Linked DNA regions of Homo sapiens: regions 2 and 3 are each linked to region 1. Evidence: fine-mapped expression QTL. A gene starts in region 1. Each other region holds a variant in brackets. All regions are shown on one strand. Distances are between the middles of the regions.

The links. PIP is the estimated chance that this variant, and not a neighbour inherited with it, causes the effect.
Region 2: its variant is fine-mapped to the expression of BTBD9 in testis (GTEx, PIP above 0.99). The same link has a PIP of 0.9 or more in T cells, aorta, caudate, cerebral cortex, iPS cells and nucleus accumbens.
Region 3: its variant is fine-mapped to the expression of BTBD9 in caudate (GTEx, PIP 0.98).

What each region holds. Positions count from the first base shown.
Region 1 is chr6:38,636,697-38,642,619 of GRCh38, reverse strand. It overlaps BTBD9 (BTB domain containing 9), which reads left to right and starts at 2,691. Exons shown (of 11, transcript NM_001099272.2): 1 at 2,691-2,820. LOC105375044 (a long non-coding RNA gene) reads right to left here and starts at 2,225. Exons shown (of 3, transcript XR_926767.4): 1 at 2,136-2,225. RefSeq lists enhancers at 2,349-2,428, 2,229-2,729 and a silencer at 2,829-3,028.
Region 2 is chr6:38,173,422-38,179,344 of GRCh38, reverse strand. It overlaps BTBD9 (BTB domain containing 9), which reads left to right. Exons shown (of 11, transcript NM_001099272.2): 11 at 4,163-5,923. The coding sequence ends at 4,360. LOC124901315 (a long non-coding RNA gene) reads right to left here and starts at 4,167. Exons shown (of 2, transcript XR_007059571.1): 1 at 3,268-4,167; 2 at 1-2,029. The variant C/G (reference allele first, on the strand shown) is at 3,121.
Region 3 is chr6:39,543,770-39,549,692 of GRCh38, reverse strand. It overlaps KIF6 (kinesin family member 6), which reads left to right. Exons shown (of 23, transcript NM_145027.6): 11 at 4,005-4,110; 12 at 5,000-5,138. Among named protein-coding and RNA genes, the nearest start is that of KIF6, 180 kb to the left of the region's middle. The variant A/T (reference allele first, on the strand shown) is at 2,249.

The DNA of each region.
Region 1 (5,923 bases):
GCTTGGCTTCAGAGGCATTAGGCTCACCTAGTTCTCCTTTTCTCTCTCTGGCCATTCTTCCTCAGACTTCTTTTTGGGCTTCTGATCATCTGCACCTCCTTTTAAAGTTAGTGCTCTCCAGGGGCCCTATCCTTGCCTCTCCTTATTATGTCTTCTGTATTTTCTCCCTGATTGATCTCATCCATGCCTCGGGCTTAAATTACCAATTATTAATTTATTTCTTCCAAATCTATTTTAACTCAACCTCTTTCCTCATTCATAGACCTGTACAGTTTGAGTGTTTATTGGACATTTTTCTCTAGATGTGGAGGTTCCATCAGGTCACAGTCATATTGCTATAGTCTCTGAGGGGACCTACTGAATTGTACCCTTCTTTTCCAGGTAATGGAGAAAGCTGCAGGAAACCAACTATTATCTTTATTACTGACTGTATCAGTTTCCTATTGCTGTTGTAACAAGTTAGCACAAACTTGGTACCTTAAAACATACAAGTTTCTTATCTCGCAGTTCTAGAAGTCAGAAGTCCTAAAATCAAGGTGTTGGCAGGGCTGTGTTCTTAGGGTGCTAGAGAAGAATCCATTTCCTTGCCTTCTCCCGCATCTACAATTTGCTTGCGTTTCTTGGGTCCATCTTCAAAGCCAACAGTATAGCATCTTCAAATCTCTGTCTGACCTCTGCTTCCATCATCACATCTCCTTCTCTGACTCTGACCCTCCTGCCTCCAGCCCAGTCAGACAATCCAGGATAATCTCCCTAGATACATCATTTAATCATATCTGCAAAGTCCCTTTTGCCACATAATATAACATATTCATGGGTTCTGAGTATTAGGGTGTGGTCATCCTTTTTTTTTTGGTTGGGGGGGATCATTATTCTGTGTAACACAGCTGACAAAGCTGGTATTAAATATTATCTGTGGACAGACAGCTTCCTAATGCCAAACTCTGGAATTAAATACATATACTCTCTTTGTAGCCCTGGACTAGGCACCCTTGTCCCTACCCACAGGCCCTGCTCCAGAAGAAACGGAAAAGAACACCAGGACAGTTCCCTGAAGATAGTTATCTTTTAAGAGAAAAAGAATGGGATAGATGCCACATGTCCAGTTTCTCCCATTTAAGTTCACCAATCAGGAAGTCACTCCTCTAGGCAAGAGTGAGTTGCAGACAGGTATAAGAGAAACCAGGAGAGTATTACACTAATGGATATCATTCCATATGGAAGAAAGACATTGTGAATGGAGAGTAAATGTTTCCCTAACAAACATATCCATATTTGAACTCATCATCATACTCCACATATCTGGTCATCCTCCTAAGAAATGTCACCATCACTATCTATAATAGTAACTTAGACACTTGTGGATAATCAAGACTCATGTAGCTTGCCATCTTGCTAAATGTTACCACTGTCTACCTCAGCACTCATGCTAGAAACCTGGCCTACTCATTTATCCGCACTCAGTGCTGTGAATTCTACCACCTTAATGGCGCTAACATCTATCCCCTCCTCTATTCCCACTGCCAATGCCTTGTTTAATGTTCTTATCACTTGTCTGGAGTACTGCAATGGCCTAAAAATGGGTCTCCCTGCCCCAAGCCTTGCTTTTCCTGACCATTTTCACTTTCTACTTTTACTCATGAAGCTTCCTTTGCCCGGAATTAAGTCCTTCCCAATTTGTCTCCTCCAACAACTGCAAGGGCGGTCCCCTAGCTTGCTCCAGCGTCGGGGATAACTGACTTTCCTACACCAGCTACAGTCAGACCTGCACCCGGATTTCTAGGACTCTTATCTATGTAGATAGATAAATACATTTTTTTGAGACAGTGTCTTGCTCTCACTGCAGAGGCTGGAGTGCAGCGGCGCGATCACGGTTCACTGCAATCTTGAACTCCCCAGGTTCAAGCGATCCTCCCACCTCAGCCCCCCGAGCATTTGTGACTACAGGCGCGCGCCAACATGCCCATTTAGTTTTTGTCTTTTTTGTAGAGACGGGGTTTCACTATGTTACCCAGGCTGGTGTCGAACTCCTGAGCTCAAGCGATCCGCCCACCTCGGCCTCCCAAAGTGCTGGGATTACAGGCTTGAGCCACCAAGTCAAATGGGCTTTATACTTACAAAGTACCTTTGCATACCTTATTTCATTTTCACCTCACAATTCTCCAGCGTAGGCTGGACCGGTATTATTATGCCCATTTACTGAGAGAGGAAACTGAGAGTCAAGGCTGGGCCAGTCACACCCTGCTGCGAAATTAACGAGCATCACTTAGCAGCCTCGACATTAACCGCGCTCGCGCTCTCATCCCTTTCTGGTCCTACTCCTTGGAGAACCTTCCTGCACCTCCAAGAACTTGCCGATCGGGTCTGCGGCGGTCTGGACGAGGTCACTCCACAGGCGCCCAGGACCTTCTCATCCGTAGTGACGTGCGCCGGTGACGCCATACAGTGACGTGTGGTGACTCGACTTACCCGGAGCCAGGTGCCGGCAGGGCAGCCACACCCTGGGGCCCCCTGTTCTGGAGGGGCAGAGGGTCGGGCCGATGCGAAAAAGCCGCGGAAGCTGCCTTAGGCGACTTTCTGGGCCTGCATCGCCGGACCCAGCAGCCCGCTGTCGATCGGTTGCTAAGTGACGCCAGCGCGCAGTGGCGCGTGCGCGGCCACGGCGGAGTGCGTGAAAGCGGACGCGCGCCGCAGCAGCCGGGGCGGCGGCGAGGACGGCGGCCACGGAAGCGGCCAAGGGGGCGGTGGCGCAGAGAGGGGTGCGGAGCGGGCGGAAGAGGCGTCTGTGTCGCAGCTTGGTCTCAGAGGAGCATCGCTGGGGTGAGTAGCCGGGTCCTTGCAGGGGAGGTGGGGCCTGGCCGCACCTGCGGCGCGGGGACGCGCGCCCCCGCCGTATCCGCGCGCACCGCCCCCCGCCCCTCCGCCGCTTTTTCCGGGGGCGGGGGAGGAGCTGGGACGGGGCCTGACGAGGGTCATTTCTTGGGCCCGGGTGCTCTGGGAGAGCGGTAGCCGTCCCGTTCGCAGTCCACGAAGGTGTAGTGGGAAGTAGACGTTTCGGGGATTCGGGGTGGCTCTACCAGCCTCCCAAAGAGAGGAGTTCGAATCAGGGGCAGCCCAGGTTCCCTAGCAGTCTCGTATCCTGTCTGAGACGACGTTGCCTGGGACTGAGGAGGCGAAACCCGGGACCCCGGGGTGGGGGTTTGGAAAGTTTGGGACTGCTGGGGCCCTCATCTCCCCTGCCCTGGCCAGCCTCTGAGTAGGAGCTGGTTGTTATGGAGAGAGTTGTGAATCAGTGCCTGCGTGCGGCATCAGACACACCCACGACCTTGGGAGGGCGACCTGTCAGTATAGATCCGGGGCAGCCAACCTGTTGCCTAGAGTTTCTAACTTCACATGTATGTGCATGTGTTTCCTTGGCGTTTTAGTACATTGTTGTTACAGATTTTGAGACCAAGGTGCTGATAGGCATCCTCATTTCTTACTTCCTCATAGACTTAGTTATCTTGCTATATTTCCCAGAACCGTGTTGTGCTTTTGTCATTAGTAGATCCAAGGAAGTATGGAAGCATGTTTTGTTTGTTTTTCCTAAAGGCAGTACAGGCTGCTATTTTCTGGGCAGAAAATACGGATTCTGTTCACTGTGTGGGCGGAAAGTGTTGATGATGGGAGAACCCAGCATGTAAAGGTGTAGCTCATCCTCAGCCCTGTGCTGTCTTCTCAGTGCTCTGGACTCTATCATGGGTAGATGTATAGGGGTTGTGGTTACCATACTTGGGAGCGAGGAATATTGGAGACAGGGAAGAAGCCAGTCTTTTCTTTCTGTTGATTAAGGCAATTTGTAGAACCAGTGAAAAGATAGGCTGTACTGAAATCTAATGTTTTGTGTAAGAGGATAGAGGAAAATAAGTTCAAGGTTCTCATTTAGGTCTAAAATTCTATGATTCTGTTTCATAACTGAGAATCTGTAAAGTATGTTACCTCTTGGAACCAGTAATAACCTTGCTTTGTAACACTTATTAGATTACTCGGAATTCAAAGTGTCTTCCTCCCTCCACTGTAATAGCTTTTAGGACAGGAGTCATCTGTGTTTTCCTCCTTGCCCTATGTCTAACACATAGGAAAAATGTGCTTGCCACAGAGTAGGCATGCAATGGATATTTGTTATATAGCACACTATGCTCAAGTGGTGTATCTATGTATAGAAAGCATTGAGTTCAGTCCATCAAGTACTTAATACATGTGCCTCCCTCTGCCCAGTATCATGATAGGTGTGGGAGGAGGATTATGGAGTGAAAAATGACATAGAAGACCTGTCTTTTTTTTCCCTTTGAGAGCAGTAGTCTAGCTAGGAGATGTATAAAATAATTATAAAACCAAGTTAAGTAGCAGGTAACCAGTGCTGTTTGAGGACTATAAATGTGGTAGAAAATCAGAAAAGATAGGATGTGTAGGCTGAGTTAGGGAACTCTTTGAAAGAGGCAAGATTTGACTTGGTCTCTGAAAGAAGTTAAAATTTGTTAGGAAATAAACCAGGAGCTGAGAAAATAATAATGTGAATTTGGTTGTTGGAGGATATACCAAGACGACTTTTATGTCTGGTAACTGGAGCGGAACGTCTCTTATAGGGGAATACTGGAGAGAGATGGCTTAGCAGGTTGGGAAGGCAAAGTGTTAAGGATTAAGGCGGGCTTATCAGCATCCCACTGTTAACAAGATACAGCCTTCTTGTAAGGTGGGATAGAGGTTGTATTAATCAGAGTACAGTCTTTGACAAGAATAAGTGTTATCCTTACTTGAAAGTAAAGGATATTACGCTTGAACCAATATCAGGTTGTTAATATACTTTTGATTTCAATTACTAATTGGAATCGATGCCTCACTAATGTGCATGTATTTTAGGTAGTCAGTGGTGCATGTCTCATTATCTAAAATCTACCTGATGTACTTGGGCCATTGTATTGGAAATTTACTGAAATGATGTACCAATAGTCATCCAGTCACACTCAGTGACATAGTTTTGCTTGGGATTATCTCTCTGAGGTTTGTCTTTACTGCTGATCCTGTAAAATATACAAATGTTAGTTGGGAAAGGAGTCTTTCTGATGAACGATGCTTAAAAATACTGACCAAAGAGATTTCAGAATAATTAAAGACCCTGCTGCTGAATATTGAACCCTTGGTCTTTATTTATAACATCTTCTGTTATGTGAAAATTCTTTTGAGTGGTATGTAAACCTGAAGTTGAATTGCTAACCAAGATGTGTAAAGTTACAACTGCAAATGTTGCATTATTTAACAACTCAGCAGATACTTACTGGGTGCTGGCTATGGCGAGACACTTCGTTGGGTGCTGGGAAGACAAAGAAGTTAAGACACAGTATATGCTCAGCATACTAAGTGTTCATCAGAAGAGATAAACCACTAACCATTATGTGCTGTGACAAATTAATCACTTTTGGAATGAATAATGTGCTGGGGGAGTAGAGTGCTTTGGCTGGAGAAAAAACTGATAGGGAACATGTTGAGAAGAAGGGGATGGAGCTTAGCTCTGAGGGTTAAATAAAATTTCGCCACATGTAGAGGTGGAAGAGAGCATTCCAGGGGCCAGCATAAGCAAAGTTGCTGAATATTAAAATTAAATAGCGCTTTTGGAAATATCTTGAGTTGTTTCTTGTGGGCAAGAGAGGGGAGAGGGCTGAACTCATCTCAAGAACCCATTCCTGAGATAATGAACCCATTCCTGCTATAATGGCATTCATCCATTCATGAGGGCCTAATCACTTCTTATTGCATGGGGGAAGTGATGAGGCAGGAAGCTGTTTTTGGAGCCAAATTATGAGGGGGTCTTCCACTTCATCCTAAAAAGTCTAGACTCCTCCCATCCATTGGCAGTGGAGAGCCATAGAAGGTAGAATAATCAGAA
Region 2 (5,923 bases), 460 kb after region 1:
TGATCTTTCTTGATTTGAAAATGACTCCTGCCTATTGATTCCAAATTGCTAAATCAGGGGATTCCAAGGTTTAAAGGTTTGTTGTCATCTAGATTTTTAAAATACTTGTTATTTGAATTTGTCACCACAAATGTATATTCCTTTTTAAATAACTTTTTTAGTTTAAGAAATATTAGTTTTTAAAGAGTCTCGTAGGCTGGGCATGGTAGCTCACGCCTGTAATCCCAGCTCTTTGGGAGGCTGAGGTGGGCGGATCATGAGGTCAAGAGATCAAGACCATCCTGGCCAACATGGTGAAACCCCATCTCTACTAAAAACACAAAAATTAGCTGGGTGTGGTGGCACGTGCCTGTAGTCTCAGCTACTTAGGAGGCTGAGGCAGGAGAATCGCTTGAACCTGGGAGGCGGAGGTTGCAGTGAGCTGAGATAGCCCCCCTGCACCCCAGCCTGGCGACAGAGCGAGACTCTGTCTCATAAATAAATAAATAAATAAATAAATAGCCTCCTTTGTCCAAGAGTATCAGGATCCCTGCCCAGCTTAAGGCCAGGCCCTCGCCCTGTCCCATTGGGTGTGGCCTCTGCCCCACCCCTCCCCCCCACACCCTGCTGCTCCCAGGCCCTCCTTGCTCTGTTGCCACCCTTTGGCTTGAGAACCTGTGTAGTTCTTCCTGTTTTTCTTCCACACCAAGTCCCCCCCTCCTCCATCCTCTCTAGCTTGGCTGCCTCTTCCTTCCAGACTCACCTCAGATGTCTCCTCCCCCAGGAAGCCTTCCCTGACCGCCTGCCTGGCTGGGTCCCACTCCTCTATGCCCTGGGGCTCCTTCTCCCTGGCTTATGTGTCTGCTGGCCTCACTGGACCGTACACCCTCTGAGGGCAGCTGGGACCTCGCCCAGTCAGGCACGTAGGAGGTGCTTCATGCTTGTGGTACGTGTGTACCTCCTGACCCTGCTCACGTGTGCAGCGTCATCCTCTGGCCGTGTCTGCTGCATATGTGATGTTCATCCTGTCTCTGTTGGTGTGCAGAGGCTGTTCCCTCCCCACCTGTCACCTGTAGCTTGCCCACCCCCACCCATGGCAGGTTCTGTGTCTTCACCCGCCTATCCATTTGTAAAAACACTCTTTTCCACTTAGAATCTTCGCCACACAGTTTGTGATTTAATACAGGTAACTCACTCCTGCCTGTGTATTGCCTTTGAATCTGGCAGCACCTGCGTGGCTTGGTGGAGATGCTCAGGGAGACTGCACTTCATTTAGTTGGGATTCTGGGGCCACAGACTGGGACGCAGCTCTGAGATGGCCCCAGTTCCTTGCAGAGCCACAGGGAGCTCAGTCAGGCAGTTACGGCCTAGGGCTTCCAGGGGCTTCCAGGGTCCCCTAACTTGATGGCAGGGCCTGCCGTGAGCTCTGTGGCATCAGGGAGAGAGATAGTTAGGAGTTCTTTAGAAGAAATATCCATAGGAAAACACAGAAGCAGTTGAGATTGGCTGTCAGTCTTGTTAGGTGTGTTGGGAGTAACAGCCATTTGCATTATTATCTGAAAACAAATTGGCTAATGGGCTAAACACAGTTGTGCCCTTAACACTGCCCAAGTTAGACAAGAGATAAATGCAGCTGGAAATGAGAAGAAACAATGAGAACCAGGGCACCGACAGGTCGGGTCGTGGAATGTCTATCACGTGCTCACCACAGACAGCATCTCTTCCCAGGCTCTTACCAGCGCAGTGCGGAGCAGAGACCCGCCCTGATCCCTCCTCCAGTGAGAGGCCGGCTGTGAAGAGCAAGCCGCAGCACCAGGCCACTCTGAGGTCTTTTTTAACTTTATCTCTCAATCCAGGGTTTTTATCGATTTGTTTATTCTTGTGCAAGAACCCGAGCAGGTAGAAGGACGACTAAGCCTTGGTCCTTGAGTCAGATCGGAGCTGACAGATCAGTAGAAGGAGGCAGGCAGCGGGGTGGGCCACGGAGCGGGAGGCACCCTGAAGGCTTGCGGGGCCGGTGGGGGAAGAGCTGGCCTGGAAATTAACAGGACTGTAGAGAACGTTGCAAGAGCAAAAGGAGAGAAAAACCATTCAATACCAGAGGAGTGAGCTTGAGAAAAGGTAATAAGGAGTAGGACAAACGTAAGTCAATTCCAGGATTAGTGTCAGCCTGAGGCTCTGGGGAGCGGCCTCCGGAGATATTGACCGAGCAGGGAGAGCAGGGATTACACAAATAACCAATTAAAGAACATGGTGGGGCCGGATAAAGAGCTCCTGTGTCAGCAGGGGGAAGGAGCAGTAAAACACAGCCTGTCCTGAAAAGTCCTGCGTGTGGGCGTGGGAACAGAATATGGCTCTGGGTCATACTGCAAAAGAGAAGGCGTATTTGCTGGGTTATGAGAAGCTTTAGTGGGGGGGGTGTTGAGGACCGGGACTGCACTCTCAAGGCGTGTCCTGGCCCCGCAGAGCCTGACCTCACCTATCCCTGGGTGTGGAAGAAGGAACACTTATAAGGCAAGTGACCCATGAGTGGCCGACATGCCCAGGGCGGTGTTGTTACTGAAGAGCTGCAAGATTGTGAAGCTGATGAAGGAGTGGATTAATGGTTGTCACCTAGAGGATGATTCTCAGATTCCCCTGGCCTAGCCCAGGGCAGAGCTGATGGCCCAAATAGTGTTCAGATCTCCACATAAGGCCTTCCCCTAGGACCTAGCCCCTCCAGTTGTTGACTGGTAAGCCCTGCAGATGGACCCACAGAAGGAGATTTTATAAAAAAGGAAGGAAGGAAAGAAAGGAAAAGGAGGGAGACATAGGCTAAGTGGGGACAGCTTCAGCCGTGAGGCAGTGAGGGGTCTGCAGGAGGCGAGGACCGTGCCTGAGCCCCTGCCCTATAAGGAGAGAAATCAGCTCCCTCTAAGAGAAAATGGCAGCTCCCAAAACAGAGTGGACACACCAGGAAGACACGGTCTCAGTCTTCATATGAGAAAATGTGAAATTTAAAACAGTGGTCAATAAATGAATTGAAGTGGGAATATGGAAAAAACAGTGATGCAGGGAGGTAAGCGTGGAATTTATATTTTCAATATAATTCTGCAGTTGATACTACATTTGTCTCTGTGAACTTGATTCTACGGTAGAAGG[C/G]CGTGTGTATGTATGTGCACACATGCTCGTGCAGTGGCAACGACAGCCCCCACCCCGCCCTTCTCTCCTGCACCCCACAGCTCACACATGCATGTCAGGACCCCCCGAAGCACGTTGTCTACTCTCCAGGTCAGGGCCATGGCTTACCCTTGCTTGCGGGGCGCTGAGCTCGGTGCTGTGCCCTGTCTGCACAGTGCTGGCACGGTGTTGGCACAGAGTTCATGGTGCTTCCAGGCTGACCTGCTGTCAGGTATGCAAACTCTTCTTAGCTCCTAGAGGGTGACTGTCGGCCAGGTGGCTGGCTTCTACACATTGGGGGCGTTTGTTCCAGGCTGGCTGGAGCCACATGAGGTTGAAGTCCACTCCCCAGCACGGCTGCTTAGCAGGGTCTGTGCTCAACCATTGCAGGGCCAGGAGAACTATGCATCAGGAACCAGCTCAGGACAGGACACCATGCCATTGCAGGGCACGCTCACACACATTCACATGCACTCAGACTGGGACCCTGCAGACACACCAATGAACCTCAAGTGCACAGCTTTGGGACGCGGGAGAAAACCAGAATACCCAGAGACAACCCACGCAGATGCCACACAGATGGTGGACGTTATCTGTGGACCTGCTTTCCACAACCTCACAGAATCGAACCACCACCACCACCACCACCAGTCAACTCCTGTTGACTTTTAACCCAACTGCCAAATACAAAAATTAATTAAAAAAGAAAAAAGAGCCCATTAGACAAAGGTTGGCAAAAACGGAGTAATCCAGTGTGAAGATTTTGTGGGAATCCGTGTCATGGTGTCTCTAACTTTTGGGCCACTGGCTCATTTCCTTTCCTCTTGACTGATCAAAATGTGTTTACAGCATGCTAGTTGCCATCAGGTGTCTGCGCCGGGGCAGGCGTGGGCAGTGGGAAGGACCTCCTCTAACTCCCTCGTGGTGGCCCCCAAAGCTGGGCAGGGCAGTATCCCAACTTGCGGCAACTCCAGGGCCGCATGCTGACCCTTCACTCATGGGGTCTTTTCCTTTTCTCTCCCAGGTGTTCCACTGTGTCCACTTTGAGTGTCCAGAGCAGCAGAGCAGCCAGAAGGAGGAAAATAGTGAGGAATCGGGGACAGGGGACACCAGCCTGGCCGGTCAGCAGCTCGACTCCCATGCGCTGCGGGCGCCTAGTGGCAGCTCACTACCCTCCAGCCCAGGCTCCAACTCACGCTCCCCCAACCGGCAGCACCAATAAAGGAGGCAGCGGGCCTGGTGTGACTTGGTGGGCTCGGGCAACGGCAGGAAACGGTCTCCTCCCTGAGCAGGGGTCTCTGTTGACTGCCCCCACCTCTGCCCCTTTCCAGGGAGGAGCCGACCTAGCTGCAAAAGCAGACACCGAACAGGTTTTCTCCCAAGGACAGAAAGGGGCTGCTTTGTTCTTCTCAATTTATCCAAATCAGGCAGGTCTCAAGGGGGAGAAAATGGGTCTTCAATCTTCATCAAGTCCACCATTAACACCCTACCTCTCTAATCTAGCCCAGGCGCAGGGAACAGGAGGAAGTCATAGACAGGCCTGTGTTGGAATACAAAAATGGCACGCAAACACTCAGGCGGAGGAGAAAGCCATTGGGCCTTTGCTACCTGGAGGCACCCTTTAGGAATGGGCCTCCATAGAGTGTTCATTCTGCTGGAATACATTGCCCTGGCAACTAAATGATTTTTTATTTGTTTTAGTTATTCTCCACTCAGTGAATCATAGGTGTTCCGGATCTATTTGAAATGCTCAAACAGCAAATCACTAGTTTTAATCCCTTTTGATGCTATAATTTTCCTTCCTTGGTTTTGAACGGTTCAGCTTGCGGGGACAGAGACCCATCGTGCATGTCTCCTAAATGAGACACGGATGCAGCTCATCCTGGCACTTGGGCCACAGAGGAAGTGCCACAAATGCACACAAGCAAATCAACCTGTGGACACTGGAGTTAATAGTCACTCGTGTGGCTGAGTTACTCACCTGTCATTCCTGACATGGATCCAGCCTTTAAGCTTGGGAGGCTGACAAGGAAATAGTTACTATGCCCGCTGCTAATTCACTGTTCCGAAGTCCATGTAGATAAACATATACCGAGTTCTGGCGTGGCCAAACCTGCCGGGGACTGCCGTGGCTTAGCTGCCCCTCCAGTTGTGTTTATCGAAGCATTGGAGAGGCAGCCACCTGCCCATCAGCGTCAGGAACGCAGAACTGGGACTCCGTGCTTCCCCCACACCACAGTACTCAACTGGGGACTGAAAAATAGCAGTTCCAAGAAGCTTTTCTCCTAATCCTCATCAAAAGGACCTCATTTGACGATGGTGGCTTGATGTGGCTCCGTCTCCTACTTAGTGATTTCCATTCCAGTGCTGCCTGCCCTGGGTAACTGCGCACAACATTGCCTGCCCCTCCGCTGTCCCCAGAGCTCCGGCCTCTGTCGCCATCAGCATCAGCCTGGGAGTCTCCCCAGGACGGCATGGCACGTGAGCAGCACTGCAGTCCTTGGGTCTTCGGCGCCAACCTGCAACCCTGATCAAAGGAGGGTGAGGGCGTGGGAGTTTCCTTTCAGGTGTGTCAAAGACATATCAGCTGCGCTCTAGAAAGAGCCAACGGGTCAGCCGCTTCCTCCTAGTTTAACTTGATTTTGAGTGATTTGTCCATATGGAAATAGTAGGGTAGCATCAAACTGCGTGATTAAATTGGAAGACTGTCTTTCCGTGTGAACACAGGATGGCAGACATCAGAGGGCTACCGGGGCAGGGTGGACACGTTCCTGAGGAGAAGCCA
Region 3 (5,923 bases), 910 kb before region 1:
TTGCTAAGATCTAAGCAACTGCTTTTCAGTTATTTCCCACTTCTTCGTCCACCTATTTGCCTCCTCAATGAATGCTTGCAGGTGTGGGTTCTCCCTTTTAGAAATACATCACCCAATATGGTATTCAAATACTTTGAGTAACTTTGTTATAGTATGGTAAGTATTGTGCTTCAAAACTTGGATTTTACCTGTGTGCTTGCTGTGTGAGCTTGGACAAGATACGTAATATCTCTGTGCTTCAGTTTCCTCACCTATGACATGGGGATAATAATAGCACTTTTCTCATGGGTTGTTGTAAAAATTAAGGAAATGATATATGCAAATAGCACAGAAGAGTGTCCAGCATTTAGTGCATGCTCAATGTTGGCTGTCATTAATGATGAGAAGCTTGCTTTGTCTTTTTATTCATGCTATTAAACCTAAATTTTTAGGGACATATGGCTACAGAGAGAGCTTTTTTTTTTTGTACAAGGAATATAAGGAGCAGAGAGGGGAGTGCAGTGGCCTCAAGAAGGTAAAGCACATGTTAGGAAATATGGTCAGTTCTAATTATGTGGCCATATATCAAAATTTCTAATATGATGGAGTTGCTGAACCAGGACACAGGCTGTCAGAGGTATTTCATTAGCAGTCAATTTGGCTGAGATCTGTATAGTCACCAGACATCAAACCATCACCTACCATCAGCGAAGTCATGTGTTCAGACACACTAAATTATTACAATATTTCTTGTTACTGAATGGTGTGTATTTCTTTTCTCTTTCCCCTAGGATTCTTTTTTCTTCCTTCTTTTCTTCTAGTGTAAGTAGAGAATAAGGAAAGCTCTTGTTGACTTGGGCTTGTCCTAAAAAATAGACTTTATTGTACTCACTTGACCTCCTTAGCGAGACTTTTCTGCAAACAGTTTTCCACTGTTCAGCAGAGTTCTGGCAGCTGGGAGACCCCTTAGAGGGAGCAGGGACTAGGTATAAACTTGGACACTATTTTGGTAGATAGGAAAATGTGGGGAATTTGGGTTCATTTGTTCACTCTCAACTACTAGAGGAGTACAACGAAAACATCTGAATTAAGCATTTTTCTGCATTTTAATTATTAGACCAAGTCCTTGCCTGATAAGGAAATAAACCCAACAGTAAATCAAATGTATGAAGGAAAGACCAGGCATGTTTCTTTGTGTTCTCAAGTGCTGAAAGCAAAATAGCATGTCAAAAGGCTGATCTTCATTCTTAGTTATGTACTAGACTAATCAAGTCCCAGAAAGAGTAAAGCGATCAGTTCTTTTACTCAGGCAGAAGTTCTTGCCCATTTCTTTGGATCATGTCCCTGGTCCTCCTTGTATTCTACAGTGTTGCTGTGTGGGAGAGGAGCCTTGATGGAATACCAAAGCCCAGTGCACGTGAGCAATCTGTGAGTGGTCCAGCTCATCAGCAGGCTTGTATCTTACGAGGTTTCCTTCTGAGCTAGGAGTCCACTTCAGCCTTCCTTCAGAGAACGTTTCCTAGAATATGTACTTGTGATTAAACTATTCAAAAGTTGTTTTCTAAAGAAAAAGCAAGAAGAAAGAATTGATTAACCATTACTTCCAACTTAATATTGTCTGCTAGAAATTTTATGGACTCTGGAAATCACAAAGTGCTTTCACTCCAGAAAACGAGTGTATATTCTAGAACCCACAGTGATTTTTGAAATTTCAAAATTTCTGCTATGTATTCAGGGAAAATACAAGTAGCTAAACATTACTATTTTTTAAACCTCATTAAGTCAGGTTTGTAGATCAAGGTCTCATCATGGGTTACAGAGGAAAGTAGCAACTGTATGAGTATGTCACCTCAGTGTCCATCAAGAGAGGAATAGTAGTACATCCATAGTATGGAATATTATATAGCCATTAGAAATGAAATACCTTTACTGTGTATGCACTGATGGAAAAGCTCATCTGCCATAAATGCTTTAGAAATATAATGATGTAAAGCATTATTCAGACTATGATCTCATTTTTGTAAAAACAACAAACCAAAATGTATAAATGAATATATAAATATAGGTATCTGCTTCATTAAGAATAAGAATAATATATTTTAACTGTTAACAGTGGATTTCCCAAGGTATCAAATTTTTTTAAAAAAAGGTGGAGGGGAATGGTGGCAGGGGAGTGGGAGGAGTTTTCACTTTTTAATATATTCACATCTGCATTGTTTGGAATTTTGTTCATAAACATGTGTTTTCATAATAATTTACATGATTTTTT[A/T]AAAAATGTATCAGGAATAAATCCCTCTGTATATCTGATGGTTTGAAGCTCTAATCCAAAAGGAAACACACTGTCAATCAGCAAATAGTGCAAATAAGTATCTCTTCACCTAAAGAAACTCCTTAAAAGTAACGGTATAAATTGTCTCACACTTGTAAATATATAGCTGTCACATGTCACAAATTACAAGAGGTACAAATGAAATCCAAGGCTGTTCTATGATAGAAATCATTACATTTTATCTGGGTGGGCTGATAGTAACAGCAGAAGAGAAATGTGTAGATACAGTTTTAAAAGATGCTGAAAGTATGCAAATATTTTCATAATAGTACTAGAAAGATATGCTGCTGCTGTATTATGATACATAACATCATAGATACTGATTGTCATCCTTAAACCTTCCTTATTAAGAGTTCCATCTCAACCTAGAGGGGAACCATGTCCATGGCAGTGAATCCAGTAACTAGTGAACATATTTGTGTTGAGAACCTAATGTTAGGGGGACGGGAAGAACAAAGATAAATAAGAGCCAAGAATTTCCCTCTGATACAAAGTACTAGAATGCTACATTGGCACGTGGTGCTATGAATAAACTAGGACTTTTTTTTTTTTTTTTTTTGAGACAGGGTCTTGTTCTTTTGCCCAGGCTGGAGTGCAGTGGCACAATCTCAACCCACTGCAACCTCTGCCTCCTGGGTTCAAGTGATTCTCCTGCCTCAGCCTCCTAAGTAGATAGGATTACAGGCACATGCCAATTTGCCTGGCTAGTTTTTGTGTTTTTAGAAGAGAAGGGGTTTCACTCTGTTGGTCAGGCTGGTCTTGAACTCCTGACCTCAAGTGATCCGCCCACCTGGGCCTCCCAAAGTGCTGGGATTACAAGTGTGAGCCACTGTACCCGGCCAAACTAGGACTTTAGAATAGAGTGGTTGGATGGTCCCTCCAAAGGGAGGTGTTTTGTTTTCTATTTCATTTTGTTTTAGGATAGGAAAAACAACATGATTGTAAGCAAAGAGGAAGGAGTCAGTATAGAGAGGAGATAAAGAGATGATTAAGGGAAAAGAGGTAATTAACTAGATAAGCCCTGGAAGAAGCAGAGAGAGAGCCCAGGGGAGAAACTGGCCTTCAGAAAGAGGAAGAATATCCACAATCTATAAAAGCAGGAAGAGGGCCTGAGCAGTGAGGCAGAGACACTCTGAGGCAAAGGAGGAGGAAACAAAGGAGTCTGCATGGCTTTCACCAATAAAGAAGTGACTTTATTGACAGAGAGTGAAAGAGTAGTGGCAGGCTTGGGGGCTGTAGAAAGATTTGGAATAGGCACTGTGAAGAATAGAAGATCACCTGGAATGATTAAAAAAATAGTGGGGTATCACTGAGGTGCCAGCTGAAGCGGAGTCACATGCATTTTTAGTGAAATTAATTTAAAATACATTCTCATTACTTTTTCTAGCAATGCAGCAGCCAGGCACAGGGGCATAGAAATTCAGAGTGGCTAGAATGGATGGACCATAGAAATCAAATGATTTCTATATTGAAAGCTTCATAAGAAAATTCACTGGAAATTAGTCAAATAATGGCTTCACTATAAATTTCACTTTGTCAATGTTTCTTTTCCCTTAATTTTTATACTCAAATCTGTACTTCTGTAAAGAGGTGGGAACAATATTCTGTACTTCAAATGTTAACCAACTAGATAATGCCATTAGAATTTTTAAAGCTTCTAGCTCACAGTTGCTTCTCATACATTATGTATTTTTAGGCTGGAAAAACTAATAACATCCTTTTTGGAAGACCAGGATTCAGACAGTAGATTAGAGGTTGGCGCGGATATGCGTAAAGTTCATCACTGTTTTCATCATTTAAAGGTAAACTTAAATGTTTCCCCAATAGAAGCCATTTTCAGCCATGTTCAAGCTGCAAAAAAACTTTTCTAGTTGACCAGTTCTTGGAAGGTTAGGATCCAGCATTGCATGTCCAGAAAATGGTACGATCTTTGAATCAATAGTATGATTATCACTGAGTTTCTTCAGAGATTGTATCTTACTTGCCAATAAATAAACTCAGGCCATGGACTTCTAATTCTTTTGTCAGGAATCTCTACCTTCTACACAGAATAGTTCCATATTTTTTAAAAAACTATTTTCAAGCTATATCAAGAGAATTGCATTCTGTATTTTTTCAGCAGTTTGATATACCCATATGATATTTCAGTTTTTCTCTGCCTTAGGTTTTAATTTTCATGACAAGGGGCTGGGAATATAATCACTTTTACTTTTAGCTCACTTGTATTTTTGCATACTTCTTTAAGATAATAAACATTTGTTGTGAGTTACTAAGGGCCAGGTATAGATAAGACAAAGTTTAATAAGCAAGTCATGGAGATGACAGATGTTGTAAAGAATAATCACAATACATGATAAGTACTAGAATAAAAGTGTAAATTAAGTGGAATGATGTATAGAGAAAGGGAAAGGAGTCCAAGAAGAGATAATGTTGAGTAGGCATTTCCCAATTTAGGGAAGGAGAGATAAGATGGGGAGAGAGGGTTGAGGAAGGAGGAGGGGAAAGAAGGCAGGTAGAAGGGAGAAAACATGCCAAGCCAAAAAAGCAACTGCATCGCAAAGACATCGCACCTGCATCAGACAGGTCACACATGCCTGATGTGTGCAGGGAATTGTTAAAGGAAAAAGAGTCAAAGAAACAAAGAAATTTGGACTAGAGATATGGGTACTAAGCTCTTATTTTATCTTACAGAAACTATTGAATGACAAGAAGATCCTTGAAAACAATACAGTCTCCTCTGAAAGCAAAGACCAAGATTGTCAAGAACCATTAAAAGAAGAAGAATATAGAAAGCTACGAGATATTCTGAAACAGAGAGATAACGAAATCAGTATCCTTTCTGAAGTGATGAAGAAACTTCCTCTATCCTGGTTTGAAAGGGGTAAACAGCAGTCTTTCCTGAGCCACATGGCTGAGCTCCCCACCCAGCTTCCATTTCACATTGCTTCTTTCCATTGAGAAGTCAAAGGTCCCTTCAGCAAAGTATTGCAACCAGTGAAAAAGAGTTTCTATAAAAGAAAAAAATGTGTTTGTTTTTATCCTGACATAGTTACTCTTGCAGGGAACATTTTAGTTTATTTCAAAGTATGAGCCTTTTTACACCATCTTTTAACATTAATTTTTTAAAATATATTTTTTGGCTCCTCTGTTGTGTTCTCTTTGTGTTAGCCCTGAGCCAGTAAGTTAGCTGGTTATCTTTAGCAAGCTGACCAGACAACAGGCTGACCACAGACTCACCATGGCCCAGAATCTGTGGCTGGTGCGTGGGTGAAACTCAAATGATGGCTGAAAAATGACAAATGGTATTTAGCTTATGAAGAGCAGAGATTGATTTAAATGTAACTTTTTATTTAAAAGCCAGATCTACTGCTTTGAGTTACACTTACAAATGTTCCCAAATTTGGAAGTGAGTATAGATGAGTGTTCAAGATAGAATTCTTTTTTTTAGCTAAACTGATCAGTACCAAATAAGATAGAATTCTTATTGGCTCCAAGAGGCAGTGTATTTTGGGTGCTGAAAGTGGTAGTAGCCCATGGGAGCATGTGCTGCCTCCAGTTGCAGACGAAGTGGTTACTTCTATGGAGCCCCTGTGGGGTTGGGTGGAACTCAGGCCT